Homo sapiens: one gene and its partners. The protein of the gene in region 4 purifies or fractionates together with the protein of the main gene of each other region. This does not show direct contact. Each region holds a gene or a part of one and is shown on either strand. Other genes may lie near its edges. The genes, in order: CBX1, TRIM68, UBR3 and AHDC1.

Region 1 (6,883 bases), on a different chromosome or scaffold from region 4:
GAGACTCCGTCTCAAAAAAAAAAAAAAAAAAAAAAAAGAATGGTATACAGGACAAAGGCAGTGATGGCCCTCTCCACCTTGAAACACACATATAAGAGCCAGAATTTACTAACACAATAAATATGATACATCTGAAACTGTTGCCCTGTAATGTACAGTTTAGGAAAATGATGACATTTAAATAGAGACCTCAGGGAACATGATGGCTGAACTTCAATATTAGAAGAAACATATGAAAGAAAGATAAGGCTTACTGTGTGGCTACAGATGCCAGAATTAGGGAAAATAGGTGGCATCTCCATGGGGAGCAGAATTCAGCTCAATACAAGGAATTAGGGATGGCAGCATTTTATGTAGACAGAAATATGGTTTGGGTGTTAGATAGAAATGAGATTAAATCAATCAAGAATTTATGGCCAGGCATGGTGGCTCACATCTGTAATCCCAGCACTTTGGGAGGCCGAGACAGGTCAAGGCCTGCTTGAGCCCAGGCGTTCCAGACCAACCTGGACAATGTGACAAGACTCTGGCTCTACAAAATAGAAAAAATTAGCTGAGTAAGGTGTGGCTCAAAGCTACTCAGGAGGCTGAGGGGGAAAGATGACTTGGGCCTGGGAAGTTGAGACTACAGTGAACCGTGATTGCACTACTGCACTTCAGCCTAGGAGAGAGAGTAACATCCTGTCTCAAAAAAAAAAAAAAAAAAAAATAGGCCGGGTGTGGTGGCTCACACTTGTAACGCCAGCACTTTGGGAGGCTGCAACGGGGGGATCACAAGGTTAGGAGTTCAAGACCAGCCTGAAAACACAGTGAAAACCCGTCTCTACTAAAAATACAAAAATTAAGGCTGGGTGCGGTGGCTCACACCTGTAATCCCAGCACTTTGGTAGGCGGAGGCAGTGGGACCACTTGAGGTCAGGAGTTCAAGACCAGTCTGGCCAACATGGTGAAACCTCCCTCTACTAAAATTACAAAAATTAGCCAGGCACGGTGGCGGGCGACTGTAAACCCAACTACTCAGGAGACTGAGGCTGGATAATTGCTTGAACCCGGGAGGTGGAGGTTGCAGTGAGCCGAGATCTCACCACTGCCCTCCAGCCTGGGTGACAGAGCAAGACTCAGTCTCGGGAAACAAAAAAATTAGCTGGGCATGGTGGTGGGCACCTGTAATCCCAGCTACTCGGGAGACCAAGGCTGGATAATTGCTTGAACCTGGGAGGTGGAGGTTGCAGTGAACCGGATCATGCCACTGCACTCCAGCCTGGGTGACAGAGTTAGACTCCGTCTCAAAAAATAATAATAATAATAAATAAATAAAATAAAATAAAAAATAAACCAGAAGTGGTGGCTCACGCCTGTAATCTTAGCACTTTGGGCGGGTGGATGCCTGAACTCAGGAGTTCAAGACCAGCCTGGGCAACATGGTGAAACCCCCGTCTCTACTAAAATACAAAAAAATTAGCTGTGCATGGTGGCATGCACTTGTAATCCCAGTTACTTGGGAGGCTGAGGCAGGAGAAGTGCATGAACCCGGGAGGCGGAGGTTGCAGTGAGCCGTGATCTTGCCATTGCACTCCAGCCTGGGCGACAGTGCAAGACTCCACCTCAGGGAAAAAAAACAAAAAAAGCACTCATTAATAGTAGCTAATTATCATTACAACTAATTTTCTCATCATCATCAGTCAAAAACAGTACACTACAGGAGGAAGTGAGGAGATGCTTGCTTCTCACTTGCTTCTTCCTAGAAACCCAGCCCAAATGTTTCAGGAAGAATTGCTCTCTTTGTGTCCGGAGTTGATTCCTTCCGGTGGGTTTGTGGTCTCCCTGACTTAAACAATGAAGCCGCGGACCTTCATGGTGTTAAAAACAGCTCTTAAAGCTGGCAGGGACCCAAAGAGTGAGCAGCAGCAAGATTTGTTGTGAAGAGCGAAAGAACGCGAAAGAACAAGGCTTCCATAGCGTGGAAACCGACCTGAGCAGGTTGCTGCTGCGGGCTAACAGGAATGGGTGGGGGGCAGGGGGCCAGCTTTTACACCCTTGTTTGTCCCTGCCCATTTGCTATTTCTGTCCTATCAGAGTGCCCTTTTTTCAATCCTCCCTGTGATTGGCTACTTTTAGATTCCTGCATTTTACAGAGCGCTGATTGGTGCATTTTGCAGAGTGCTGATTGGTGCATTTTACAATCCTCTTGCTAGCTACAGAGGGCTGATTGGTGTGTTTTTACAGAGTGCTGATTGGTATATTTTACAATCCCCTTGCTAGGTATAGAGCGCTGATTGGTGCATTTCACAATCCTCTTGTAAGACAGAAAAGTTCTCCAAGTCCCCACTCGACCCAGGAAGTCCAGCTGGCTTCACCTCTCATCTTCTCTGTGCTTTCTTGAAGCCCTTTTAACTAAACTCTATTATGATATTGCTGGGCTGGGTTTTTCTTACATGACAGTTCTCCAGAGCCGTGAACAGTGCCTGCATCAGCAAAACTGTCTTATAAATGCAAACTCCTGCCCTGAACAGTGCCTGCATCAGCAAAACTGTCTTATAAATGCAAACTCTTGCCTTTTGGGGTAGAGTGCAATAGAGTTTCCCTCTTCCTCCTGATTAGAAGGATACTTTAAAATAAAAAAATAAAACTTTAGTTATATTGTGGCTTAAAAACATGTTTTTTTCCTAATTGTGTGTTTCCTTGGGATGATTGGGTGAAAGGTGCTGACGGAGATTAATGACACTGAAAAAGGTGAGCACAACTTACAATGAAAAAGAGGACATTTTTGTGGCGCAGCCAGTGAAAAGGGGGAAATTCAGGAAGCTATGAGAGGCCTATGGGGGGACCTAACCTACTCTAGGGAATCAGGGAAGACCTCAAAGGGGAAGTAATCTTAACACTGAACAGTATTTTTTTTTTTAGACGAAGTTTCGCTCTTGTTGCCCAGGCTGGAGTGCAATGGCGCGATCTCGGCTCACTGTAACCTCCACCTCCTGGGTTCAAGCGATTCTCCTCCCTCAGCCTCCCGAGTAGCTGGCACTACAGGCGCCCGCCACGACGCCCAGCTAATTTTTGTATTTTAGTAGAGATGGGGTTTCACCATGTTGGCCAGGCTGGTCTTGAAACCCTGACCTCAAGTGATCCACCCACCTCCGCCTCCCCAAGTGTTGGGATTATAGGCTTGAGCCACCGTGCCGGCGTGAGTAGGAATTTTACAGAGATTTGAGGAGGCAGAGATTGAGGACTAAGAAATCATTGGAAATTTGAGGCAGCGGCGATATGATAAAGTTCTGGTGAAGAATCTAAGATTCAAAAATTTTGAGGATGTGAATTACAGAACTGTCCAGAAGTGGTTGATTTTTTGGGGGCCAAGCATCAGGGGGCTCGCTTATAAAAATCATATGTTCTAATTTTTTTTTTTTTTTTTTTTTGAGATGGAGTCTCGCTCCATCGCCCAGGCTGGATCGCAGTGGCTGGATCTCGGCTCACTGCAAGCTCCGCCTCCCAAGTTCAAGCAATTCTTGTCTCAGCCTCCTGAGTAGCTGGGACTACAGGCACCTGCCACCACGCTCGGCTAATTTTTGCATTTTTAGTAGAGACAGGGTTTCACCTTGTTGGTAAGACTGGTCTCGAACCCCTGACCTCAGGTGATCCACCCGCCTCGGCCTCCCAAAGTGCTGGGATGACAGGCGTGAGCGACTGCCCCTGGCCCATATGTTCTAATATTCTAGGTTACAACGCTCTACGCTGCAATCTCTCCACCGTTACAGTTTAAAAACTATAAGTCCCTACCACCCTCGCCTACTGTGCGTGCGCGGCGCGCGGCGCTTCGGGCCTTGTAGTCTTGGACAGACCCCCGAGGCCCATGGTGCCGTGCGGCGGGTCGTTGCGCCTGCGCGGTGCGAGCGGCGGGCAGCGCAGACTGCGAGGCTCTTTTGTTCGGCTGAGGGGAGGGCCGTTGGCCGGGGCCTGCGGTACGCCGCTTCAGTGAGGGACGCCACTGCGGCCACCCGGCTTGCTGCCTTCCTGGGCGCCACTCCCCCAGGCGACCCGACGCGACGCGCCAGCAGCGCAGCACCGATTCCTCTCGGGCTCTTGGGCGCTGCTCTGAGGTGAGGAGCCCGCTGGAGGCGGGAGAGCTGGGGGAGGGGGCGCGGCGGCGGCGGCGGCGGGAGCCCTGCGTGAGGGAACGCGCTTTCGAGGCGGAGGTTAGGAGCGGGGAGCGCGCCCGGGTCCAGCGTCCTGCTTCTCCGCTTCCCGCGCTGAGCTCTTCGCCTGTCGCTGAGGCGTCGGTGCCAGCTGCGTGAAGGATGGAGAGGGCGGGGCGCGAATCCTGAGCCAGAGACTGAGTGCTTGGGGGTGGGCCGAGCACTTGGGGGCCGCTCTTCGGGGCCCGGGTGGTCTGGAACAATGTTGCTTGGCTGGGCGGCTGCGGGATAGGGCGGAAGGGGACAGGCTTGAGGCTTGGATAGGCGTGAGGAGGCGCATACGACCGCACAACCCGAGGTTTGTAACTGTATTCGGAAGACGCCGGGTCCGGCTGGGACTGCCAGAGGAACCTGGCTTTGCAGGACTACGGAGGAGTAACGTCGAGTGAATTGGAAGAGGGCCCAGGGCCGCACAAGGTGTGCTGATTGGAGGAGGAGATGTGTGGAATAAATTGGGAAAGGGGACACGGAGGGGGAGGGGCAGGCGTTTGCTGGGCCTGACTCTGGAAGGGGAGGAGCTGTTAGGATAAGTAGGGCGGAGATCCCGAGAATATTTCTATAAGGTATGTAAGAAAAAAGGGGAAAGCAGGCCGCCCTTGCATCCTGATGGGTCCTTACAGTGGGGAGGCTGTAAGAATAATGTGCGAAGAAAGGATGGAATACGCTTTTTTCAGTTTTCCAGGTTTCCTACTACCTTCACTCCATGATTCCTTTGGGGAGTTAAAAAAGTCCAAGTGCAGTTCTTGCTTTGATTCAAAATTAGTTCCGTACGTTTTTGTGTGGGATCGTAACTGGTCTCACAAAGGTGATGAAATTGTAAAAATATGTAGATGAGTTAATAGTTGAGGAACGGCGTGAGGTAGTGAGAGATTGTGAGATCGTGTGAGGTGCGAGAAATTGGGAGACATAGGAAAATTATGTGAGATTGTGAGGTAATATTTGTTTCGTGGGCCCTTCTGTTTTTAGCCAGCTTTTCCTTGTTGGAAAATTTGAATAGAGTGAGCTATATTTTACCTCTTTTTTTTTTTTTTTTTGAGAAGAGTCTTCCTCTGTTGCCCAGGCTGGAGTGCAGTGGTGCGATCTTGGCTCACTGCAACCTCCACCTCCCGGATTCATGCGATTCTCTTGCCTCAGCCTCCCGACTAGCTGGGATTACAGGCACACGCCACCACGCCCGGCTAATTTTTGTATTTTTAGTAGAGACGGGGTTTCACCGTACTGGTCACGCTGGTCTCGAACTCCTGACCTCGTGATCCTCCCGCGTCGGCCTCCCAAAGTGCTGGGATTATAGGCGTGAGCCACTGCGCCTGGCCATATTTTACCTCTTTTTCAAAGTTTCAAATGAGGGTTTTTCATAAATTGGTGTTACATTTAGACGTGTTGGTTTAACGCAATTGAGGTGGAATTTACAAAAAGTTCAGCTATAATCAGTTATATACTAGAACCCCTAGCCCAGGGTAAAGTAGCCTCCTCAATTGTGTTAAGAGTCACATCAGCAGTTTGGAAAGATTGTGAAAGGTCCAAGGCTTTGGAATAGATTCAGGAATACAATGGGGAAATTAATGCCGGTGTTCCTCCCTAGGTGCCTTATAGACTTTTATATGAAAGTGGTGTGATTGAAAAGCACTTGTATTGAAACCGGTGGCACCTTAATGAAGCTTCACGGGAGTGGAGGACCTGAAGTCGTTTACGGTTTTCCCTGTGGTGATATTTTTCTTCAATGGCTGCTGTATCCTAAATTGTTTCTCATTAAAAAAATAAATAGTAGGGTCGGGCGCAGTGGCTCAAGCCTGTCATCCCAGCACTTTGGGAGTCTGAGGTGGGCGGATCATGAGGTCAAGAGATCGAGACCATCCTGGCCAACCAACATGGTGAAACCCTGTCTCTACTAAAAATACAAAATTAGCTGGGCCTAGTGGCGCATGCCTGTAGTCCCAGCTACTCGGGAGGCTGAGGCAGGAGAATCGCTTGAACCCGGGAGGCAGAGGTTGCAGTGAGCCGAGATCTGCACCACTGCACTCCAGCCCGGGCAACAGAGCGAGACTCTGTCTCAAAAAAAAGAAAAGATAGATGATAGGTAGATAGATGGTGTGTGAAATAAATAGTTTTGAATGTAAATAGAAGCCTAGTGGTAAGTAAGTTACCCTGGTCTTCTGCATTTCTGAATACAGGATACCTATAACTTACAAACTATACCTCTAAAGAAAGATAGCACTCATTCTTGTGCCCATTTTAAGGACTAGGAAAATGTTTCTCTTTGTTGTTCACACCATTTGAAAATAATTCATTAAATTTTGGCATCCTCTAGTGGTTTATCTAGCAAAACCTCCCTTTTTTAAAAAAAAATCCTATCTGCAGTGGTGTAAGAGATTTTGCATTAGATTTGGTAGATTTTCACTTCATAGGTTCTTTCCACGAAGAGTTTCTGGTGTAGAAGGCTAATTGCTAGTTTATGGGCTCCCATAAAATGGAGCCATACTGGCCCCATCTCTACTAAAAATACAAAATTAGCTGGGCGTGGTGGTGCACACCTGTAATCCCAGCTACTTGGGAGGCTGAGGCAGGAGAATCGTTTGAACCCGGGAGGCAGAGGTTGCCATGAGCCGAGATCGCGCTATTGCACTCCAGCCTGGGCAACAAGAGCGAAACTCTGTCTCAAAAAAAGAAAAATGAAAAAATGGGGACGCACCTCT
Region 2 (8,109 bases), on a different chromosome or scaffold from region 4:
TCTGGTCTCTCCCCAGAGAGCATTATAATTCTCTTTAAGGACTGTGGCCAGTGATGGCAATGTGGATCTAAATTTCTCTTTGACTAGGGAATGAGCTATTATACTATGTGGTAGCCATGTTTTGTTCTGAGGACTTACTTGTGTTTTCCAAGTTTTTGTGAATGTAGAGCTTGTGCTTGTGGTGGGTATTTGTCATTCACTGTAGCTGGCACTTGAGTGCTCTTCCTATGTTTGACCAATTTTCCTTTTCTTGGGGCGTCTACTTCTCCCAAAGAAAAGCCATAGAAGTCACCTTCCTACCTAATTAATCAGCTTTCATACCATGACAGAAAATCCAAAATCTCAGGGGCATACAACAAATGTTTTCACTCACACGTCATGTCCTTGGCTGCAGATAGGTTGCTAGGATCCCAGTCCACATGTCTTTGCATCCAGGACTCAAGCTGAAGCAGGAGCCCCTCTTTGTGATATGCCTTTATTGTGACAATGAGAAAACAACAAAAGGTGGTACAAACATGAAATGTCTCTTAGAGCTTCTCTATGGAACTGAAACACTTCCCTCCATTCCTATTTCAACGACCCAAGATGGTCATATAGCCAAGTCTCATAATGTCCTAGAAAGCATTCTCCAGCTATCGGGAAGCACTGTGAGTCATGAGGCAATGGATGAGATTGTATGTCCCCCTCACAAAAAGGGAGAAAATAGATGGGAATAATCACCCACCATGGGAGAAGGCATTTTGTCTAAGTGCTGTCAATCATGCACACCTCCAGGAAGCCAATTCAGAAGCTAGGAAAATAAAAGCAAAATGCCACATTGAATCATTCTGGTGAAGAGTGCTGACAGAAGAGTAAATCTTCCAGAGATATCAGAGGCAGAGATTCTAGTGTCAGTCTCTGCACCCAGGTTTAGGAGTGAGATCCTAGTTGACTATGCTCAATGGAGCCAGTAGTGGTAGTTCCATCAGAGTGGACCTATGGGGTAATTTGATGATGTTCCTGCATACATCATCAATGGACTACCAAATGTTCTTTAATAAGTCCTTTTTATGCTTAAAATAGGTTTCTGGCATTTTCAACTCTTGTTTTTAGTAGGCATTTTGATTGACTGGCTCTTCTCTCAGTTGTCTGCTATTCACGTGGCAATGAGTTAGGCCAAATCCCTACAAACACATTTTACACTCTGATAAGAAGACTATATAATTTAGTATTTTCCACTATAGAGAATATGCCTTCTCTTCCAGTACCTTCTGAACAATTATATAATGCAATTATATAGTTGGCCACAAAACAGTTTCCCAAATGATAAGTTATAATGGCATTTTTTAAACTCTTATTGCATTGTGGTTATAAAATGCTAACAAACCTAAATAAATTATATATATAGAGAGAGAATTTCAATTTAATTAAGTAATTTCAAGAGAAAAGCAAATTTGAAACTGTGCTTAATAATTTTTTTAATAACAAATGATAACGAAAGCACCAAGATGATTTATGGTATATAGCCTGACTTATATTTAGGGAAAACTTTACACTCCTCAATCAATGCAAGAAGCAAGAAAAATAAGACAATAAATATAAGTAAAATAAATCAAGAAAAAATAATAAAGATAAAATCAGAAAAAAATTGAAATAACAAATTAACAGGTTCTTTGAAAGGAACAATCAATTAGACAGATCTTTGGAAAGAAAGATATGTCACTCAGAAAAAAAAACATAAAGTAGTGGTAAATATATAATATCAGGGATTAGAATCAAGAAAAAAACTCAAAGTAATGGCAAATAAAAATAAAAATAATTATTTGTGTAATTGTTCATAACCATGGAGACACTGATACTTTGAGAATAGTAACTTACTGAAACAGATTCGACATTTAAAGAACTTGAATTAGACATCAAATACAAGGACATATAAAGCTACTTCTTCTTGTTTTAATCTAATGCAACTCTGATATCAAAACTAATAACAGCATTTGGCTTGTTCTGCTTCCCACTGTACAAAAGTCTTACTGTTAGTTGTGTGTCACTATTAACAATTGCTATTGTAATATACATCTATATTCTGATATATACCTTTTTATTTAGTTATTTATGTCTCTCTGTCTCATGCACACACACACACACACACACACACACATATGCTGCCATTTTCCTGTCCATGGCATCTCACACTGAAACTGCCCCACCACATCCTTGCTAGATCTTCCTATTACTGTTCCTTTCGTCTGCTTCTGAAATTGTTCTCTCTTTTCTACTTCCTGCTTCTTAATTTTTTGGAACACTTAAACTCTAATATAAAATCTAGGTGACAGCCTCAACCCAGAAGCACTTTCAGAAAGGCTCTCCACCACCTGTAGACAGAATTCTATGTTTTAATTTCTAGACTCACTTCCCCTTCCATCCCTGACCTCCTTCCTCTGCCAAAGTGAAAGTGGTAACGAAGTCCTGCAGATTTTCCCCTCTAGGCAGGAATTTCCTCTCTCTTAGCCAAGGCTAGCACTGAGTAGATAGGGACGGGAGGCCCTAATCTCCTACTTGGACTCCTGGGAGATGTCAGTTTTGCCTTCTGGAAACTGAAAACAATCTGGAATAGAGGAAACAGGAGGTATTAACTCCATCATAAGAGGTCCAGTAGGAGACTTTCAAGGTGGAGCGGGGTATCTACTCATGGTCTAGGCTATACTCCTACCCTCCTCCTTCCACCCCTAGCAGGTTCTCCTGCTGACTGACACACCACTAACACAGACAGCTATTTCTTCCCCTTTAAAGCCTTCAAGACTAAGATTATATTCTCATCAAGCCTAAGATTATACAAAACTAACTGAGGGTGTGGCTCATGCTTCCTCAGAAAGAGTAAGAGAAGAAAATAAATTAGGGGTCTCTAAGCAAGCATGTTGTATGACATGCAATAAGGTCAGTCTCTGGTCTCTTTCCAGAAAACCAGGCCTCAGATTTGTACTAACCCCCTAACTCTTCCTTAGTCCTACTTCTTCAGTGCCCCAAACAGTTCTCAGTTCTTGCTTCTCCTTTGATGCTACTCCTCCCCTAGAGCACAGATGGACACCATCCTACAGTTAGCCACTCATCTTGTTGTCCTGGTCTATCCTGGATTCAGGGCAGAGGGTTGGGGTCTGCAGCTACAGCTGTGGAATTTGTCCACGACAGAGCCTCACCTGGACACACCTGTCTCACAGCAAACAAATAAAGAAACAAACAAAACATTCTGAAGACATCTGTAAAGGAAAGCTTCTATGCCTTGGAAGTAAACTGGTCTGTCTTCAAAAGCCCTCTCTCCAGCCTTCCCCACATGAACGCAAGCCCCCACCCCCAGCTACCCTGATTGCCAGGGTTCTTGACAGTCCGTCATAGTTACAAATTGCACCTTACACATGAAAATGATCTCCCCATTAACTGTTTTAACTTCACAGAGATTCCAGAGCAGTACAACCAACTTGACCTTCAGCTCCTTAAAGGCAGAGACTATATGTCCCATAGTTGTAATCCCAGCACCCAGTAAAATATTGTCAAGAAAATTGATGTTAAATAAATGTTTAAAATGGCTTATTTCAATTAATCCATTCATTATTCTATTAGAGCAGCCATTTCTCCAAAACTGGGTGAGACAGAGGGTACAGCTCAGACCTAAGATACTTTTGTTTTTTCTCATAGACCTATTTGTTGCAGGAAATTTCTGGGCCTCACCCTTCAGAATTTTAACCATGGCCGGGGCTCAGACACTGGCATGAGCATTCTGGAGTATCTGTCCTAACAATTAAGATATTATATAATTTGGAACCGAGCTTCAATTGGAAGATTTCCTGGTTATTTTCTATGCGGATAGGAGGTGCCTTCACTTGCTTATTAAAACCTAAGTGTCAAGAGAAGGACAAGGCCCTGGGAGTACAAAGAAAAACCCATATCACTGTCTTAAGTAACAGTTTTTGTGTGTGCGTGCATGTGTCTATGTGTTTGGGTGAGGAAGGGATACCAGTTGTTTAATTTTTTTTTCCTTTTTTAATGACAATTTTTGACCAGGGTTTCCATTTCTCCATCAACTCCCGGTCTCTGTTGTCTGTTTTTCACTCTAAAAGTGGATTGTGGCAATAGTGATGACAAGCTGGTTGCTGAAGTAAAAACGAAAAAAGAGAGGGTTTTGTTTTGTTTTGTTTTGTTTTGTTTAAGAACCCAGTATTTAAAGCCTGGAACCATGAGAGGTCGCGAATCTTGCCAGGAACAGCAGAGTCCACACCATATGTGCGCCCAACCCTTTGCTAAGATGGGTCACAGAACCAGACTTGGCCAATCTCAGGCTTCTGAGTTTAACAAGTCAAACTGGCAAATGAATAGCCACCTGAGCCTCTCTTAATGCAGTGCCTGAGCGGCATCATTTGGGAGCCTCAATCCTTTGACCTATCCTAGAACTAACTCCTAGAACCCTCTACAGTTTAAGGGAATCTGAGTCGGTGAAGGGACCAGAAAAACCCAGGAAGTAGAGAAAAAACATTGACATGCCTAGAAGCGCCGAAACCCCCGTCTCATCACCAATTGGCTAGGGGTACCCTGGTCCCTGCCTGTGATTGGCTGCCCCCACAAACACACCGCCCCCTGGGCGAAGCCAACCTGGGCCCAGCCGGCCGCTCATTGGCTGCCGTCCCGCGAGCGGGGCCTAGAGCCGGGTGTAGTATTCTGGGAGCTGCGGGCTACTGGGCCTGCGCTGCCGGGCTTTGGGTTCTGGGCCTCTGCCGCTCTCTGGCCCTAAGTGCTGAGCTGCCGGGAACGGCAGCTTCTGACGCTGGGCCATTGGACGCTGCGGAACCAGGCTTCTTCACTTTGAGTTTCCGCCGCGAAGCGCCAGTCCGGGCCGAGGAGGGAGGTGGGTAGATAACTCTGCCTTTTCTGAAGTCAGATCCCGCACGCTCACTTTACCCCCACCCGCCCGCTGTCCTGGGGACCTGCCCAACGCCCTGTGGCCAGGCCAGGAGCTGCTCCCTGACTCCGGAGGTTACCGCCCGCCCCTCGACTCCCTTCCCGCTGGGGTCCTAACTGGAAGTCTTCCAGGCCCCGCCCCCTTCTCAAATGCCCTTCTCAGACTCTCGCTGTACCCTACGGAAGGCACAGTCAAAGCAACCGAACGTTTAATTATTTGAATTTTCTCAAAGTAATTCATGTATAATAAAAAGTCAAACATTAAAGCAGGTCTTATTTTGAAGAGCAGTAACTACCCATCCCCAGATCTTTGCAGAGGCTGCCACTTTTAGTTTGTCCCCATTTAGATGTTTTTAGCACCCTAAATCAAAATAATATGCGTTCCACTGTATTTCTGGATTTATCATTTTGATATTTCTTTGCCTTACTTTCTTACTGCCACAATCTTGTCAATTTTCCATCGCTATTTTAGGTCTTCCATTTGTAGCTTTAAATAATGGGTATCAACTTCCATTTATTGTTTTATTGACTTTAGATGGTGTCTCTTAATGTCTCTACTGACTTAGCTAAGGATATTAACACATCCTCCACTTTCAATCTACTATCGGTTGGAACTCAACATTTACATTTAGTTTTCACGTATTCAACAAGTATTTGAGGCACTGTTCTTGGCACTGGGGAAATAGAAATGGACAAAACAGACAATGACCCTATCCACATGAAAAAGTTCTAGTATGGGAAGTAAGACAATAGACGAATACATGGCAAATGACGTCAAAGGCAGGATCATGTAGAAGTCATTTTCAGCTGGGAGAATAGCAGGCACCCAAGTCAGGTAGATTGAATGGACGAGGGGTTTGCGGGAGTGTGTGGAAGTTTATTCCTTTGCCTAGCTGGGCACAGGTGCTGTTTCAAGGAGAGATCTTGTTAACCGGGAGCCAGGATAGATTATTTAGTAAGTTAGTGATTTACCAAAATGAGGTTTTAGGATACTGGATCCCACAGTTTGGTAGTGATAGTGGGAGGAAGAAAAGCAGGAGGCAGGGAGTCTAGTGAGAAGGCATGCCCTGCCAATGGCATATCAGAGTCCTGCAAGATTTACTGCTCTGCTTCCTGCTTCCTGCTACTGGACTGCGCTAAACCACAGTGATTTTTCTCTCCTCTTGAATTTGTATTATACCTTAAAGCTAAAGAGGTTAAGAAATTTGCCCAAGATAGATGGCAGAGCCCCAAGCCAAACATCTGTAAAATGAGAACAATAATGGCCTCTGCCTAGGGTTGTGAAATAAACCAACTTAATTCATGTAAAGTGCTCAGAACAGTGCCTGGCACATCATAGAACTGCTCAAAGAGTGCTTGCTTTTATTATTAATGTATGCTCTCAATTTACCTCACAAATGCTAAAAGGATTTTGGGTTTAGGAACTATTTCCTATGTCTAGCTGGTTAATTCATTCAACAAATATTTACTCAGCAATATCTGCATTGCAGGTGCTGTTTAGGTGCTGAGGATACAACAGGAACTAGGATCAACATGTCCCTTCCTTGTATAGATTCTAGCTGGTAACACAAACTAGCAAAGTGAATGAATAAATATTGCCAACTGAGCCAAGAGCCTGCCATTGACCAAGTTCCATGCCCATATGTGGCCCTGGCAAAAATCTCAGATTTCTTGCTGGTGTAGTGATTTCATCAATATGGGTGTGATGATCATCAAATGATCTTTGTTTTAATCTCCAAGGGATGTTATTTCATCTCTGCTTCTAGCATATCACTAAAAGCTCAGAAGACTACCTTGACATCTTGGTGAATAATAAGTACATTAGTGCTGGAGCAGTGGGCAGGGGTTTAAAAGGCACAGGAAAAGAACTGCTGTTTCCTTTACAGTTTTTGCATTTTAGTGTGCAACACAAGAAAACAAATTGAGCTTGTAGGCAATGGGCTTCTGGCATACTACCTTTTGACACTTTGAATTATATTAATGTAAATATAAACATACCAGAGAGTGAGGCTGGAGGTATTTATGGCCTTACTTCAGATACTGAAATACCACATTTTATGTGAACTTACCCAAGTTTAAGAGAAATAATGCTGATTTGTAGAGCATGATTGGAGTGGTAATGGTCAAGTAGAGCAAACCCAGAGGAAAATCAGAGTTGACCAAGTGAATGAAAACCGAGGACTCCCAATATTCACTCACTTAGGCATCCCCATTATCCCCTTCATGGTATGAGTAATGTGGCCCGTTCAGACCATGCACCCTTCAGTTGGAAAGGCCAATGCTTATTAAAGAAGGTCAGTAAAGGGTCAAAAGGAAGGTGGTTTTCCCCCAGAAATTAATTATTCCTGTTACTGATCTCTCTGTTCCTCTGTTACCTTTTTCTCTTATTTGTCTTTCTTTTCTTCTTCTCAGCCTTTACTACTTCTCCCTGGTTTCATTCATGTTCTGAGGAGGGTGTGAGAAGGAACCATGGATCCCACAGCCTTGGTGGAAGCCATTGTGGAAGAAGTGGCCTGTCCCATCTGTATGACCTTCCTGAGGGAGCCCATGAGCATTGACTGTGGCCACAGCTTCTGCCACAGCTGTCTCTCTGGACTCTGGGAGATCCCAGGAGAATCCCAGAACTGGGGTTACACCTGTCCCCTCTGTCGAGCTCCTGTCCAGCCAAGGAACCTGCGGCCTAATTGGCAGCTGGCCAATGTTGTAGAAAAAGTCCGTCTGCTAAGGCTACATCCAGGAATGGGGCTGAAGGGTGACCTGTGTGAGCGCCATGGGGAAAAGCTGAAGATGTTCTGCAAAGAGGATGTCTTGATAATGTGTGAGGCCTGCAGCCAGTCCCCAGAGCATGAGGCCCACAGTGTTGTGCCAATGGAGGATGTTGCCTGGGAGTACAAGGTGAGAGATGGAAGCTGGCCACTCCAGTCTAACCCCGGCCCCAAGTTGGCTGTTTCTAGATCAAGGGCTTGACCACCAGCACCACAGACTGAGAGCTAACTCCTTTGGTTCCTGACACCCAGAGATCCCTGGAATCTGATACAGAGAGCTATACCTTTCCTTGTATTCATGACCTTCCTTGATTTCCTGCTCTCCCACTTCCTCTACACCTACATCCTAACAGGGCTCAATTCCTAACCCAAGGCTGATTTCAGTAATGAGAATGTGAAGGAAAACAGTTTGGGTTTT
Region 3 (7,731 bases), on a different chromosome or scaffold from region 4:
GTATTAAAGGGGAGCCAAGTTTCAGGGAAAGTGAGAATTTTAATTTTGAACATCAAAGGGACAATAAAAAATTAATATTTCAGATGAATGTGTCAGACTAGGTTTCATTTTTAAAACATTGGAGTGAATAATAAAAGATAAGCATAAGTTATAAATGTCTCTGCTTTTGTTCTTTTCCATTTTTTGCTGAAATCCTTAAAAAGATGCTATCTCATTTTATACCCTTTTTTTAAAAAAAAAGGGAAATTCAAGTTAATTGAATCTTGCATATTACATATACAAATATCTTCCTGTCTAGTAATTTCTTTATTCACAGAGCATATAGCAATAATTTGACATCATACTTTGATGTCTGAAAACCTATGCAGGATGACATGGAGTAAGAGGGGTATAATTGTAGAACCAAGGCAGGGAAAAAAGTGATGAGCACACCCAGAGTTTGTCTTCATATGAGCCATAGGTTAAAATCAAGCCTACATTTTAGATGAATGATTATTGTATGTATGCTGATGGAAAATAAGAATTTTTCATTTTAAAATATTTAATCTTTTCATATAATTAGGTGATAATTATTGTAGAGGCAGTGTAGTAGACATTTGATTAATTTATTAATTTATGCTAATGCAGAATTTTTGCCAGTTATGTAAGTACACCACCATTTGACCTGTATTCCCCCTTGTGTCCCTGCTCCACTCTTGTGTTCCTAACCCTGATCCTGACCCTAGGTCAACCAGATTCTCTTTCTCAGGAATGTTAAATCTGTATAGCGAGACTTAGCAGGGTAAATGGTGACAGGAGCTGTATAGTCCAACAGTACTACCCTTGAAAAACTGTCTGTGAATTACTACTTCTGAATTTTTTTATCAGTTAAGATTCTTTGTTTGGGAACAACAAAATCCAGTTCTGATTTAAAATAAGGAAAACCAAAGCAAACTATGACAGAAAAAAAAAAAAAAACAGGATTCATTGGAAGCATACTTGGTAACCTGCAGAATTGAAGAGCTTAACTGTCATCGCTTGGGAAGAAGAGAAACCACAAATATCTCTGCTCTGTTTTCTCTGAAGTGCTGCCACCAGATAACTAAGCCTCAACCATTTTCCTTCCTTTAATTTGCATGCTCAAGGTTCAGATTCCTGGGAGAGAGAATCTGGTTGGCCTAACTGTTGTAATACATATACCCCAGTGGTGGGGCAGGATCTTGTGTTGGGGACAGCCCCATCAGAACTGTACGGAGCAAGAAAAGGGGTTATTTTCTAAAAGAACTTATAATGTTATTAATATAAGAAAGCAGCAAAGGATGCTAGGAGGATTTAAAAAACAAACTAGTGGCCCACTACTTTCACATCTTACCTGCCTGGCTCATACACACCCTTCTTCTCATTCACAGTTTCACTTCTGCTGTTGAAAATGATGTAACCATTTTACTTATGACTGCAAATGCATCTGTGACTTTCCCAAATAAGCAACCTGATGTCACATATAGTCCTTACATCATCAGGCCTCTCTGCATCCAGTAGCTCTGAGAGATGTCCATTGTTCCTGTCATTTGTACTCACACCCAGATGGCCTGGAAAATTTTAATTAGTACCTGCTCACCCTGAATTCAATAGTAAGAGAATGAAAATGTTGCAAAGATATATGATACAGTAAGCAAGATTTGCAAGTAGTCATAAAGCTGCAGCTAATATACAGTCAAATATATATGACTTTCTTCTTTTACCATCCGTGATCCAGCACACCTCAACGGATGATTGGATTTGTTTGAGCAAGGATGTGATACCAAACTTTATTCTGAAAGGGCTGAGCTTCTGGTGATTGGTCCTGTCTTTGTTTCTATAAGGCTGTAATCATTCTGTGTTAAATTTCTGCCTTTCAAGCTTGGTCTATGGTAGGGGTGGTGGTAGGGGTTTTTAAGTTCCAAAATATTGCTCTACCAATTGTATGGCAATATTTTTATTCTTCTTGATAGTCATGGTCAATCCCTCCAGGCAATGCGATAAGCCACCCTTGTGATGTTATAAACCGTACTAGAGGTTAGACAGTACATAGCTTGTAAATCCGCAGAAGAGTCCGGAATAGCAGTGAAGCAGAAATTTAAGACCGAATTTTTTTTTCCATTTTAATGTTTACAATTTAATAAATCTCTTGATTGCAGACATGTAAGGCTGTTTGGTAGTATTCAGAAACATCACAGTAATGGCAGTTTTTTCAGTTGGTGTGTAGTCTTCAATAAATATCTATGAAAGTGCTGTCAGACCAGTAAGACTGCATTTATACATCCATCATTTTCAGGATTGTTGGTAACCACAGCCTATTTTCCCCAAATAACCTTGCCTCCTTGTGTCACAAGGCCCAACTCACATTCACCTCAGTAACAGTACCTTTGGTAATAACATCCAAAGTTATATACATTGGGAATGAGGGACTCTTCTTTACACCAAGTATTGTTAGGCAAAAGGTGGCTTTCAGTTCAGGATGTGTTACATGGGCTTTCTTGAAACGCAAGCCCATTGGCCTGATGAATCTTCCATAGATAAGTAGTTTTCTTGTAAAGCCATCTCCAACAAAGCAGACTTTAGTAACCATCCTCCTCTATGCCTGCGTCTTTCTCTTTCCTGTTGGAATAACTTTGAGACAGAGTCTCACTCTGTTGCCCAGGCTTGAGTGCAGTAGAGCGATCTTGGCTTACTGCAACCTCAGCCTCCTGGGTTCAAGTGATTTTCCTGCCTCAGCCTCCTGAGTAGCTGGGATTACAGGCGCCTGCCACTATGCCCAGCTAATTTTTGTATTTTTAGTAAAGACAGGGTTTCACCATGTTGCCCAGGCTGGTCTTGAACTCCTGACCTCAAATGATCTGCCTACCTTGGCCTCCCAAAGTTCTGGGATTACAGGCATGAGCCACTGCACCTGGCTCTGTTCAAATAACTCTTAACACTTCTGTATCTCCCTGGGCAAGTTACATTTAGACAGAGGGACTTTCCATTTTCCTGCTTTCTCTTTTCATTTCGGCTTAATCATACTGGGAAGTACGTTAGCTTGAGGTTGTCCCTCTCTGTCCAGCAGATAGGCAGGTACTGCTCCCTGTGGAGTCTTTCTTTTGTCTGGTGTTTCTCTTTTCATGCATCTTGATGGTCTTTTTCATTTGTATTTTCTCAGCATGGTGCTGTTTAAGATAAAGCTTAGCCTTCAGACCAATCATTTTCTTTGACTTCTTTGAATGTTCATAAGCCTCTCAACTTTCCTTCTTTCCCTTTTTCTCATGGTAATCCAAATGATATCCATGGCATTTACAGTGTAATTCAATATATTTGATCTGTGGCATGGCACAGGCGCAGCCCCTGGGGTGCGAAAATGCTCTCAATTTTTGGGTCTCAGAGACCCACGAGTGAACTCCACACAGGCCGCAACAGGAAAGGCAAGACCGAATTTTAGGTGTAATCATGAGAGGTGTTACAGCTGTTAAATACTTTCCACCTCTTGTTTCCCATACATATGCATTCCAATTGTGAAAAAGGTCACCCATATATACTGGTTGCTGTTTAGAGCATACACATTCTGTAGGTGATTTCTTCCAGCTGGTGCCATCTAAAAGTTTGTAAATTTCATGAATTTCATAATTTTTGTGGCACTGAAAAAATCAGTTTTGTAGTTCATGATTTAAAATACCACAGCTTTTTTCAGATGATTGAATATATGTTAAGATCAGTGAATTCCATGGACATCCACCTGTTGCCTTACATCTCTCTTCATGAGGGAAATTATTGGAGGTAATGTGCTATGGGCTACTGGATAACATGCAGCCTAACCTATAATAAGTGTCAAGTTCAGTGAGGACAAATTGTTATCCCTTCCCTTTAATGGAAGGGTTCCACTGTAATCAACTCATTACAGAATGCCATCCTTGGAGTCCAGGGTTGGGTGCTGAGTATTGGCAAATGATGTATTGTATACTGTTCTTATCATTGCTTCCATGGACACTTAATCCATGAACTTGTTGATGAGGAACAAGCTAGCTTAGTTACTCCACTGATTTAGGTGGATTATGGCTGCATGTAGGTAATGTGAGATGATCTCCATTTAAATTGACTATTACTTACAGTTTCTTAAGATAATAGACTCACTCTACATTTTATCTTTTTTAAGTGTGAATGGAGTAGCATCTAGAAAAATTTAGTGCTGCTGCCAGTATTTTTATACAGCTGCAAATAGTTAATAAAGCATACCCTTCAGGGAAATTTAACTAATTTGACAATTTTTTTATTCTTATAGCAAGACATTTATGAAAAGAATTGTAGCCCAGCACTTATGGATATAAAAGATCTTAACAGCTTGAGGTGCAATGAATTGTACATACTCTAGGAAAGCAATTCTACATTATAAAGTATTAAAGTAGAAAAAATGAGTTATAACCATGATCTGTCCTAAAGAAAAAGCTAAAGAATTGTTTGAGAATGATCAAAACTTGGTTTTAAAAAATACGTAACTTTTAAAAACCTTTGCACTATGCATGTTTAAAGTCAAATACAATTAGATGTATTTTCCCTGCATGCTTAGAGATGGTGTTTTTCTTTTAAAGTAATAACAAGTTTAAATGTTTTAAGGTGCTTAATCTAAAAAATTAAATCATACTGTAATTGGAAACTATAATACATTAGATAATGGTAACTGTTGAACTACTATTTTAGTCATGTATAAGATGGAAATGAGAGGAGTGTTAATAAAGAAAATAAGCCACATTCTTGGAGGCAGATTTTTCTTTCTGTAAAAATACATTTAAAAAATATATTGTGTTAGTGACTTAAATACATAAAACTAATGAATATTTTTGGATAATGTTTTAGGCCTTGCTTATCCAAGAGTCAAAATGGAAATTACCACACCTACTACAGTTGCCTGAGAATTATAACACCATTTTTCAGTACTACCACAGAAAAACCTGTAGTGTCTGCACCAAGGTTCCTAAAGATCCTGCTGTTTGCCTTGTGTGTGGTACTTTTGTATGCCTGAAAGGACTTTGCTGCAAGCAACAAAGTTACTGTGAATGTGTACTGGTAAGCAATAGTAGATAATACAAAATTTATGAAAACACAGATCTCATATCACAAAATATGGTCAAGCCATCTCTTCATATTAACTACTCTTTGAATTAAGTATATAATACATATAGGGATTGTGTGTGTTTTTTAATCCAGTAGAAGAGTAAAAAAAGAAAGTCTTTGAGGCTTTAAGTGAGTAAATCCTTCCTTAAGTACAATTCTAGTTCTCCTTTCATCTACTATCCCTTTAATGGTATGTACTTTGGAATGTGCTGTGAAACAGAAGTCATCTGTGCTGTTGAAGATACTAGACTCTGAATTAGGTTGGCTCTTAATTGCTTTACTAGATATTCCTTACCCAAATACCTCCTAATGTATTAATAATAAAGTGTTAGGAATGGAGTTATAAGTTTAACTTAAATGAAATCTTACTATTTTTAAATCACTGTATTATTTAGAAGGCATTAATATATTCTTGATTTTATTATAAAGCCTATTTGATTATGAAGTTCATTAATATATTTTTAATTTTTTAGCACTCTCAGAACTGTGGTGCAGGAACAGGTATTTTCCTTTTGATCAATGCATCGGTAATTATCATCATTCGAGGTCACCGCTTCTGCCTCTGGGGTTCCGTGTATTTGGATGCTCATGGAGAGGAAGACCGGGATCTTAGGTTAGATGTTCATGGATATATCCAGGTGTTTTATTGAAATTTGGTCAGTGAAAACCAATATGCTATTCCTGGCTTTGTAATTACAATTTTTTTAATATTAAGAAATTCTGACAGTCATTAATTTAGAGCTATTTCTAGTTTTTGAGCTATTGTCCCTATCAATACGTTGAGGAAACATGAAATACACCAAATTACCATGTGAGGTTTTTGCCACAAAGAATCCGTTGGCCAGGCCCAGTGGCTCACACCTGTAATCTCAGCACTTTGGGAGGCTGAAGCAGGATTGCTTGAGCCCAGGAGTTTGAGACCAGCCTGGACAACATAGTGAGACCTCATCTCTACAAAAAAATAAAAATAAATAAGCCAGGTGTGGTGGTCATACACCTGTGGTCCCAGCAACTCGGGAGGAGGTGGAAGGATCGCTTGAGCCCAGCAGGTGGCGGCTGCAGTGAGCTGTGATCGTGCCACTGCACACCAACCTGGGCAACAGAGAAAGACTGTCTCAAAAAAGAATCTAGTAAAAAAAGAAATGTGGTAGGTGTGGTGGCTCACGCCTGTAATCCCAGCACTTTGGGAGGCCGAGGTGGGTGGATCACTTGAGGTCAGGAGTTCGAGACCAGGCTGGCCAATATGGTGAAACCCCGTCTCTACTAAAAATACAAAAAATTAGCCGGGTGTGGTGGCGGGCCCCTATAGTCCCAGCTACTCTAGAGGCTGAGGCAGGAGAATGGCATGAACTCGGGAGGCGGAGCTTGCAGTGAGCCAAGATCGTGCCACTGCACTCCAGCCTGGGTGACAGAGTGGGACTCCGTCTCAAAAAAGAAATAAGTAAATAAAAAATAAAAAAATAAAAAAAGGAGGCAGGCATGGTGGTGAGCACCTGTAATCCCAGCTACTCGAGAGGCTGAGACAGGAGAATTGCTTGAACCCAGGAGGCGGAGGTTGCACTGCGAGAGACTGTCTCAGAAAAAAAAGAAGAAAGAAATGCATGTGAAATCTTCCGTGTATGATATTAATACTTTTTTTTTCTTTTTGTTCTAGGCGAGGCAAACCTCTCTACATTTGTAAGGAAAGATACAAAGTTCTTGAGCAACAGTGGATTTCTCATACTTTTGATCACATCAATAAAAGATGGGGTCCACATTACAATGGGCTGTGACTCTCCACCTCAGCATTGCATCGTATCATCATTTTCGCTACGAATTTATTTTTCAACAATAAGCTTTAACTTAATTTGGGGGATTAACACTTTTGCTGAGGGAGAAAAAGAAAACATACATTATGAAGCCTTTCCAAAATTAGGTGCTTGGTAATCACGTTAATGGTATAATTTTTTTTTTTTAATATCTGGAGAACATTAATAACAAGTTAAATTATTCTTTAGTGGTCATTTTTTAAGTGCACAATTAATAAGAAGCACAACTTGTTCACAAACTCATTCAGAAATGATTCTCCCAACAATGCGTATCAGCTATTCATTGATACTTAGAGTGGGTGTGATTTATTTGACATTTTACTGCTTCTTTCTGTCTGTGTGTTTTAATTTGCATCTGCCAAGCATAATGCATCTTTTTTCCTCTGCCATTCTTGTGTTGATTGGAGAATTTTTCTGTATGTAATTAGAAAAAAATGTAAAACATGATTTATGTGAAATACTGTATAGTAAAAGTTGGTCTAATAGTAGAACTTTAAAATTTTTTCTTATTGTGAGGAATCTGTTAAAAGTTTAAAGCTTTGCTGAAAACTGAATTCATTCTCAGGAATTTCATAAATCTTCTCCCCAGGTAAATAATTGAAATAGCTGTAAAATAAGTAGATAGCTGCTGTTAATATAATACAGTACATTTTGGGGGGCATATGTGTGGTTGGGGGGTCCTTAAAAATCAAAATTTGCCATTTCAGTTGGATGAATTACTAGAGGTAATAACAAATCTTACTATGAAATCAAGAGGTTTAAGAACATACACTGGGCAGATGTTGATTCCGTGCATGCCCACCTTTTATTACCAAACAAGGTT
Region 4 (7,731 bases):
CCCTAATGGAGCCTGCATCCCAGGACTTGCTGGGCTGGGACACAGGCGATGTCTTGGGGACCCTTCCCACAGCACTGCAGTTGCTTCTTCTTTAGGGTCTTGGGGATCAGTGGAGCCCTTCTGTGAGCCTTCCCTCAGCAAGAGAGGAGGCACGAGGGACCTCTAGGAAAGAGAAGGGATTTGGGGGCTGTGAGCAATACCCAGAGCCCCCCTATCTCCCCAGTCCTAATGCAGGCAGAAGCAGCTCAGCCTCTAAATCACTCCCCTCATGCTGCCCTCTGAGGCGGATTCTGTGCATCTGTAATTAGGGGGTGGAACAGATGGTGGAGATTCCGTTTAAAATCATGCATCTAGTAAAGTAACCTTCACTGTCGGAACTGACTCCCAGGGAGACCAAGCCCCGCAGCCTGGATTTGGGGGTGGGGGGTAGTATGTCAATCCAGCACCTTCCCCATCCCTCTCCCTGAAGCCCCAGGCCCCATGTCCCTCTCAGGTGAGCCAAGGGGTTGGGGGAGGGAGGCAGTGATTTGGCAAGCACTTGAAAAAGTGTGGGCTGGGGGCAACTCCCCCTGTCCCTCTCTCCCACATACATGCCAGAGCCAGGGCAGGGCTGGGTACTGAGAGTTCCTGGCTGAAAGACCAGGATGACCAGGTGCCAAGGGGCTCTGCCCCCACCCCAAAGAGGCCCCAAACCTTTAAGCCCAGGCCAGGGTGCCCAGAGCACAGGGTCTTGGGTGGGGCAGCTTTGAACCAGATGTCCAGCCTCACTGTCCAGGAATGAAAGGCCTGGGGCGGTGAAGGGGTGGAGATGCCTCCCCAGGCAGAGGAGGCTCTGGGAAGAGCGGGAGGCCTGGGCAGCAGAGAGAGAGAGAGCGAGAGCACACAAGAGTGAGCAATGTGTGTGACAGGCTGAGGCTGTCTAGGGGAACAAGGTGGGGGAGAGGGTGTGCTGGAATGTGCCAACGGTGGGAGTGAGGGCTGCAGAAGGATTAGGCGGGGTATGTGACAGGGTGCCGTGGGGTGCAGGCGGAGCACAGAATGGGTGCAGGGTTGTGACTAGCTGAGGCTGTCTTTGTGTACAGGTGTGGTATCGGGGTGTTTGGAGAGGTGTAGGGGTGTCCCTGGGCCCTTAGGTGGCTGAGGAAAAGTACCGGAGCTGAGACTGTCTGGGAAGCGGTGGGGCCGGGCCATTAGGACTGCCTGTCGAGGAGGTGCCGGGATCCAGGAGGCAGTGTGCACAAGTTTCAGGAGGTATTAGAAGCTTCGGGGCCTGATCTGTTAGAGATATACTAGAACCGAAGCCATGTCTGTGTGTTTGAGGCAAATGTTGTGGCTACAGAGGGTGTTCTTGTTTGAGTGGGTGTTTGAAGCAGTGAGTGTATGTGTGTTGTAGGGGGAGGCTGTATGTTTGGAAAGGTATAGGGGATGATACCGGTGTTTGGGGAAGTGCTGAGCTATAGCTGGGAGAAACGTTGGGGGCTGTGGGCAGAGTGTGTGTGTCTGGGGAGGTGTCAGGGCTTTGAGGGTATGAGTCAGTGGGAAGGTAGCAGGGCTGTAGCTGGGTCCTGGGTGTATCTGGCAGTGTTGGGGTTGGATAGGGGGTTGATATGCTGAGGGTGTGATAGCTGTGTGTGTGTGTGTGTGTGATTGTGTGTGTGTTGGGGTGTTTAGGGATGTATTGGGGGGTCATAAAAATGTGGGTTTTGGTTAAGTACTAGGGCTGTGAACATGTGCCTGGAAAGGTGTTGTGGTTGGTGGAGGATGCACTGTGGTTTTGGGGAGGAGCTGGGGAGTGTCTCTGGAAAGGTTATTGGGATTTTAATTGGGTACCTGCAAGGGTCTGGGGAGGCGTTAGAGACCTGAGGTCCCTCCATACGTGGGAAGGGAAGAATGGGTCTCTGATATCAGAGATGTGCCACAGGCTATCGTCCGTGCATGCACAGGTATGAGGGCTGTAACCAGGTTCCTGGTGTCAGGGAGGTGTTGCAGGTTGTGGGTAAGCATGTGGTGGTTGTGTGTTTGGGGGTATGTGCATGTGAGGTAGCTGGATGTCGGGGGGTATCTGTATGTAGAGTGTGTGTGTGGAAGTGTGTGGGCTGGGTGTTGTAGGTGGAGCAGTTGTGTTTTAGAGGTGTTAGAGCTGTGAGTGTGTATGTGGGGCAGTTGTCTATTTAGAAGGTGTTGGGAGCTGTAACTGAGTCCCTGGACCCCAGAGAGGTGATGGGGCTGCAGGGTTTGTGTGTGTTAGGGGGGATGCCCCTCTGGGAGAATGAAGGGCAGCATCCTGGCCTTTGCTCCGGGGCCTAACTGGGGGCTACCCGCTAGAACCCCTATGGTATGGGGTGCCTGTGCGGGGGTGTTGAGACAGGCAGTCCATCTGTCTCAGCCTGTGCCCAGGCCCAAGGAGCAGAGCTGCCTCCTCGCTCCCTGGGGGGCAGCAGCGGATCCAAGCCCACCCATCTGCCTTCAGATGGTCGAGGCAGGAGCCTCCACAAAGCTGCCTGGAGGGCAGCACTGCGTTTGAAGAGACACAGGCTGGGGGTGGGGGAACTGCACAGCAAACAGTCCTCACGGAGGCTCCTTTAAAAACCACTGACGCCAGAAGAGAGGAAGAGGGAGGACAGGGGCGGGTATGTCTGTCCTTGTGCATCTGTGTGGGTCAGTGCCCAACTTCCAGGCCGGGGGCCCCTTCCCACGTGCTTGTGCTGGATGTTCCTGTTCAGGTAGCACTCAGGCCTTGGAAAACACTGCTCCAATCCAGGCAACAGGCTCCCAGCCTCACACCTGAACTACACCCTCATATCTGCATAGTCCCTACACTCACACGCACTCATACACCTTCCCACATGCATGCCTGCCACTGCACGCTCACACATGCAGTTTGCCCCATGCCCTTAAACCTTCATATATGTACCCCCATCACACATACCCCACCCTGCAAAACCCACAGTTACACACACCCATCTTACACACACACCTATCACATAAACGTGCATCCACACATACATACCTGACAAGTCACTCTCACACACACACCCACACACTCCACACACCTTGGAGCTCCCTGTCACACCCGTACCCTATCTCACATACACCCAGTCTCTCTCACACTCCATGAGGACACTCGCCATCCCTTCTACCTGCACATGCAAGCACATGTTTATACACATATGCCTCACCACCTTTGAGACAGCTCCCCACTACCCAAGCCACTGGGCATTTCTCTGTGTCCAGGTCAGGCCCTGAAGCTTTCCAGAAGGGCTCTCACCGACTGAGAGGACCTTCTGCCTCCCCACCTTGCCAGCCGGGTTAGAGTATGGGGGTGGGGGGCAGGTGGCAGGGGGAGGTTCTGTGTGCTCTGGTGTGACTGCCACTGTATGTAGGAGGGTGTCCCATGACAGGGCCTGTGAGTCAACACCTGTACAGGGAAGGAAGCACAGGTGCGTGTTCACCAGCTATGTTCGTGAGATGCAGAATGAGTGTGAGGGTGGAGATTTACATGTCACAAATTTGTGTGTGTGTGTGTGTGTGACAGTGTGAGAGTGTGTGTGTGAGAGAGAGAGAGAGAGAGACGCAGGGCCTGTGTAGACAGGTGTGACCGTGGGGGCTGCGTTTATACGAGGGGCATCCCCCGGGTGAATGTGAGGGGGTGTTTCCCAAGACAAGAGAGGTGCACATGTGCATCTGGTGCAGGGGTCAGGGCTGCAGGCCTCTCAGCAACCCCCTCCCCCTATGAAAAGAGGAGCAGGGAGCAAGGGGCTCTGGGCGGCTTCTCTCTCTTGCTCTTTCTCCCTGACCTCTTTAGCAGCTGGAAACTGAGCCGGGGGTGGAAGGAATGGAGACTTGGCTGGCCTGGGGGTTTGGGGAGGGAAGAGGGAGAAAACACCTTCCAGATTCTCATCAAATCCCTGTTTGTGGTTTGCAGCCTGCAGTCTTCTCCCTCCCTCTCCCTCCCTCTCTCTGTCTGTCTGGGTTTCCCCCTTTCTTTATCTCTTCCTGTCTCTCAGCCTCCCCATCTCTCTCCTTCTCCATCTCAGTCACTCTGTCTCCTTTCTTTTCTCTAAGTCTCTGTCTTCCATTTTTCTGCCTCCTCCTCTCTCTGCCAGCACCTCTGTCTGTCCGTCTCTCCCTGTCCCAGTCCATCTGTCCGTCTCTCTCCGTCTGTCTGTGTGTGGGTGTCTCTGTCCATCTGTTTCACCACCCATCTGTCTGGCTGTCTGTGTTAGTCCTTCCAAGGGTGCCCACTCGCTCCCCAAGGCACCCTCCCCCAGGTCAGCAAGGCCTCTCCTGGCTCAGGGGGTGGGGAGGGGGTGCAGAGCTGCAGCTTCTGGAAGCTTCAGTGGCAGCTGGGCTGAATTGGGAGTTCGGGGCCAGCCAGCTGCAGAAGCAGCCCCTCCCCTGGGCTCCCAGGCCAAGGACCCCAGAGCAGAAGAGGAGAGAAAACAGGGCCTCATTGCAGTTGGGTTTGTGTGTGTGGTGGAGGGGGCTGGAAGGGGGCTGGAGGGAGGCAGGGCCTCACTTTACTCTCACTTCACCATTGCCCCCGGAGCCAGGCCCTGCAGGAGAGGGATCCTTGATGCCCACCTTCCTCATCCCCTGGCCAATGGAAGAGATGCTGGGATCCAGGAGGGAGGGGCCAGGAGAGGCCAGGCCTTGGGCGAAGGAGGGGCTGGGAGCCAGGGCTTCCTGTCAGCTGGGCTGGAGGGGGGCTCCTTCCCTCCTCCTTTCCAGGCAGTCCCTGGGGACCCCTCCTGCTCTGGTCCCAGTTCCAGGCATGAGGGGTTGTTCTTGCCAACTGCACTGGGGCCATTCCCACCTCCATCTACCCATAGGGACGTGGGGGGATCACACCAGTGTCACCCCCACAACAGTGGAGGCTGGTTTTGGCCATGTAGTGACCCTGGCCCTGTCTAGGCACTGGCCATCCTGAATCTAGCACCTCACACACAAATATATACAGTGCATCCCAGTGCTCACCGCCTGCCCAAGCCCCCCAACACCAGCATCCACCGTCATGACATGAACGCAGAGACCAGCACCCTACCTTGCACTGGTGACAGCGCCCCCGTCACAAAGCCAGCAGCTTCAGACAGCATCCCTTAACATTCTCCCTGGCTACTCTGTCCCTGTCCCCCACTCCCTCTCCAATAGCTCACAGTCCAAATCCCACAATGGATGGGGAAACTGAGGCCCAAGAGGAAGGGATGGGAGGACACAGTCATCCCTCCTGAGACCCTGGGGTAGGATCATAAATGAGGAAAGAAGAAAGAGATGCTGCAGGGGCAGAATCAGGCTCCTTCCTGACCTACCATGGGTAAAGTCCATATTGGCTACACCCTCCACACAGCCCTACCACAGGGCCAGGGCCAGGGCCAGGGCCAGGGGCTGGCTCCCTCCCTCTCGAGCTCTCCTTGCCCCTGGTTGGGCCCCCTCCCTCTCCTCCCTTCTGAGCAGCCCTCCCTGCCCTCTCCCTCCCAGCTCTGGCTCTCTCATCCTCAGCTCTTGGAAGCCTGACTCACTGTTTCCCCTCCTCTCTCGCCTCCCTCCCTCTCTCTCCCGGCAGCAGCGGCGCCTCCCCCTCCCCTGGGGGGGCTCTGGCCACAAGGGTGCCTGCCTGCTTCTCTCCCCAGGCTCCGGCCCCCTCCACTCCCAGGAGGCCCCCTGCAGCTGTTCCAATTCTCTAACTACAGTGAGGTGGAGTGCAAACAGCCCAGGTCCCAGCCTGGTCTTGCCAAAGGTATCTGTGACCCTGAGCAAGTGGCTCCTCTCCCTAGACTTGGCTTTCTCTCGTCAAACAAGTGGGGGGCGTCCAACTGGATGATGCTCCTGGCACCTCTGGGACCCTAATGTTTCCCGCTTTTATAACCTGGGTGTCTTTTGGCACAGAGCACCTGACAACCTGTAGGGTGCAGTACCTGCCACAGGCCACGCCCCCCCGGGTCCCAAGAAAAGCTCAGCTCTGTTCCAGGCATTTGGGGAGGGCAGAAGGGAGATGCTACCCTGGGACCTGAAACATTTGTTGAAAACCCTGGAATCTGTCTCCCCATTCTCCCTCCTCCTGTGAGAGTCTCTCTCTCTCTCCCACCTGTCCTCCTCCCTCTTCCCAAACATCTGCTTGTCTCTCCTCCAAAAACAACCCCAGAATCTGATCTTGGGTGAGAGGACCTCAGGGCTGCCTCCTCTCTGGCTCCAGGGAGGGGAGTGGTATATTCCTAGGCCTTCTTGGTCCCCGGCCCCCACCTCCAGGGGCTGTAATTCCAGATTTTCTTGCCTGTTTTCTCTTTCACTCTCATCACTGGCTTTGGTCTCCATCTTTCTCTCTCTTCACCATGCATGTGGTTGTGGGTCGCTCCCCCGCCCCCCTCCCTGGGGGGGGCCCATCTGCAGGCATTAGCAACAATGTTACCCTTGCTTCCTCCCATAGTCCCCAGCTCCACTCCATCCTGGCTTCCGCCTCCCCACTCTGTCCCAAGAGACCCAGGGGACCCAGAGACAGAGCTGGGCTCCATCCCATAATAGTGAGTCTGCTTGACCTCACCAAGCCAGACCAGAAGGGCCTGGGCATCTGGTACACAGGCATGGCACCCCCTGGTCTTGGGTGGCTGGCATGAGACACAGAGCTCTGTGTTCTACAAACCAAAAAAAAAAAACAAAAAAAATTGAAATTGACCTGGGGGTGGGACAGAAGAGGGGAAGGGGGAAATGAGGGAGATCAGGTTTGCCTGGAGGAAGCCCCTGTCCAATGGGGAACAGAAGCATAGAGGTGGGAGTGGTTCAAAGTCAGTGCTCCAGGCTGATTGGAGAACAACAATGTCCCTCTGGGGCTCTGCCAGTCCAGAACAGCTCCCCCTACCCAAATGTCTTCTGCCAGGGGCAGTCTGCCCCTCAAGCCTCCAGCACAACCACAGCAATCAGGTGGAGACCCCATCTTTTAACCTTTTGAATCCAAGTCCAACTTCCCTACTGTACACCTCCACTTAGCTCAGCAGGGGGTTCCAGAAGCCTCCCAGCCCAGATCTAAGCCCATGCAGTGGGGGTAACAAAGTCCCCCAGCTCCCAAACCCCTTCCCCAAAGGCCCCATCAAGGGCTGGGGAGCAATGCAAAATAACCCCAGAACCCTCACGCATTGAAACTGAGAAGCTATGCTGTCCCACAGCGCCTGAGGGTGGTAGGGGCTCCCTGCCCCCACGACCCTGTTCCAGACCCCCCAGCCCAGCAACAATAATAAACAGCAAGCTCTTTTTCTTTATGACACCAAATTTCTCCAAGCCCAACAGCTCCTTCCATCACTACCTCAGCCATAGATCACATTAAAAACTCACAGAGGGCAACTTAAACACATCACATTTGTTTCTCTCTATATTATTTCAAAAGTAACGGCATTAAAAATGGATTTTACTACAGAAAATAAATATCGGCACGTGGGCTGGGAGCCCAGGCGGAGGAGAGCGCCCACCAGGGGAACGTTCCTGAGGGCTTGGGCACAGTTAGGCACTGACCAGACTAGAAAGGCCAGACTACACCTTGGGCTTGTGGGTGATTCCTGGGGAGGGGGCAATGCCTGCCCACCTGGGCATCTGCCCCAAAGCCAGATGAAGAAGGACAACTCACTGGTTTGGGCTGGTAGCCACTGGTCCCCCAAAGCTTATGCCCTTACTGGTCTTTGCAACCCCTGAAGAGTGGGAGCTCTGGGGCCAGAAGTTCACCAGTCTCTGGGGATTACTCCAACT

The links.
Region 1: the proteins of AHDC1 (region 4) and CBX1 purify together in Homo sapiens (affinity purification with mass spectrometry; 4 studies listed by BioGRID and IntAct, with this or other methods). This does not show direct contact.
Region 2: the proteins of AHDC1 (region 4) and TRIM68 purify together in Homo sapiens (affinity purification with mass spectrometry; 2 studies listed by BioGRID and IntAct, with this or other methods). This does not show direct contact.
Region 3: the proteins of AHDC1 (region 4) and UBR3 purify together in Homo sapiens (affinity purification with mass spectrometry; 3 studies listed by BioGRID and IntAct, with this or other methods). This does not show direct contact.

The regions. Positions count from the first base shown.
Region 1 is NC_000017.11:48,098,479-48,105,361, reverse strand, and holds the start of CBX1 (chromobox protein homolog 1), read left to right. Parts: upstream 1-3,883; 5' UTR 3,884-4,094; intron 4,095-4,175; exon of another isoform or gene 4,176-4,607; intron 4,608-6,883. UniProt on the Homo sapiens protein: Component of heterochromatin. Recognizes and binds histone H3 tails methylated at 'Lys-9', leading to epigenetic repression. Interaction with lamin B receptor (LBR) can contribute to the association of the heterochromatin with the inner nuclear membrane.
Region 2 is NC_000011.10:4,604,791-4,612,899, reverse strand, and holds the start of TRIM68 (E3 ubiquitin-protein ligase TRIM68), read left to right. Parts: upstream 1-4,668; 5' UTR 4,669-4,873; intron 4,874-7,338; 5' UTR 7,339-7,395; coding exon 7,396-7,821; intron 7,822-8,109. UniProt on the Homo sapiens protein: Functions as a ubiquitin E3 ligase. Acts as a coactivator of androgen receptor (AR) depending on its ubiquitin ligase activity.
Region 3 is NC_000002.12:170,074,972-170,082,702, forward strand, and holds part of UBR3 (E3 ubiquitin-protein ligase UBR3), read left to right. Parts: intron 1-2,496; exon of another isoform or gene 2,497-2,632; intron 2,633-2,930; exon of another isoform or gene 2,931-3,416; intron 3,417-4,842; coding exon 4,843-5,052; intron 5,053-5,573; coding exon 5,574-5,713; intron 5,714-6,754; coding exon 6,755-6,872; 3' UTR 6,873-7,731. UniProt on the Homo sapiens protein: E3 ubiquitin-protein ligase which is a component of the N-end rule pathway. Does not bind to proteins bearing specific N-terminal residues that are destabilizing according to the N-end rule, leading to their ubiquitination and subsequent degradation.
Region 4 is NC_000001.11:27,593,825-27,601,555, forward strand, and holds part of AHDC1 (transcription factor Gibbin), read right to left. Parts: intron 2,258-7,731; exon of another isoform or gene 1-2,257. UniProt on the Homo sapiens protein: Transcription factor required for the proper patterning of the epidermis, which plays a key role in early epithelial morphogenesis. Directly binds promoter and enhancer regions and acts by maintaining local enhancer-promoter chromatin architecture.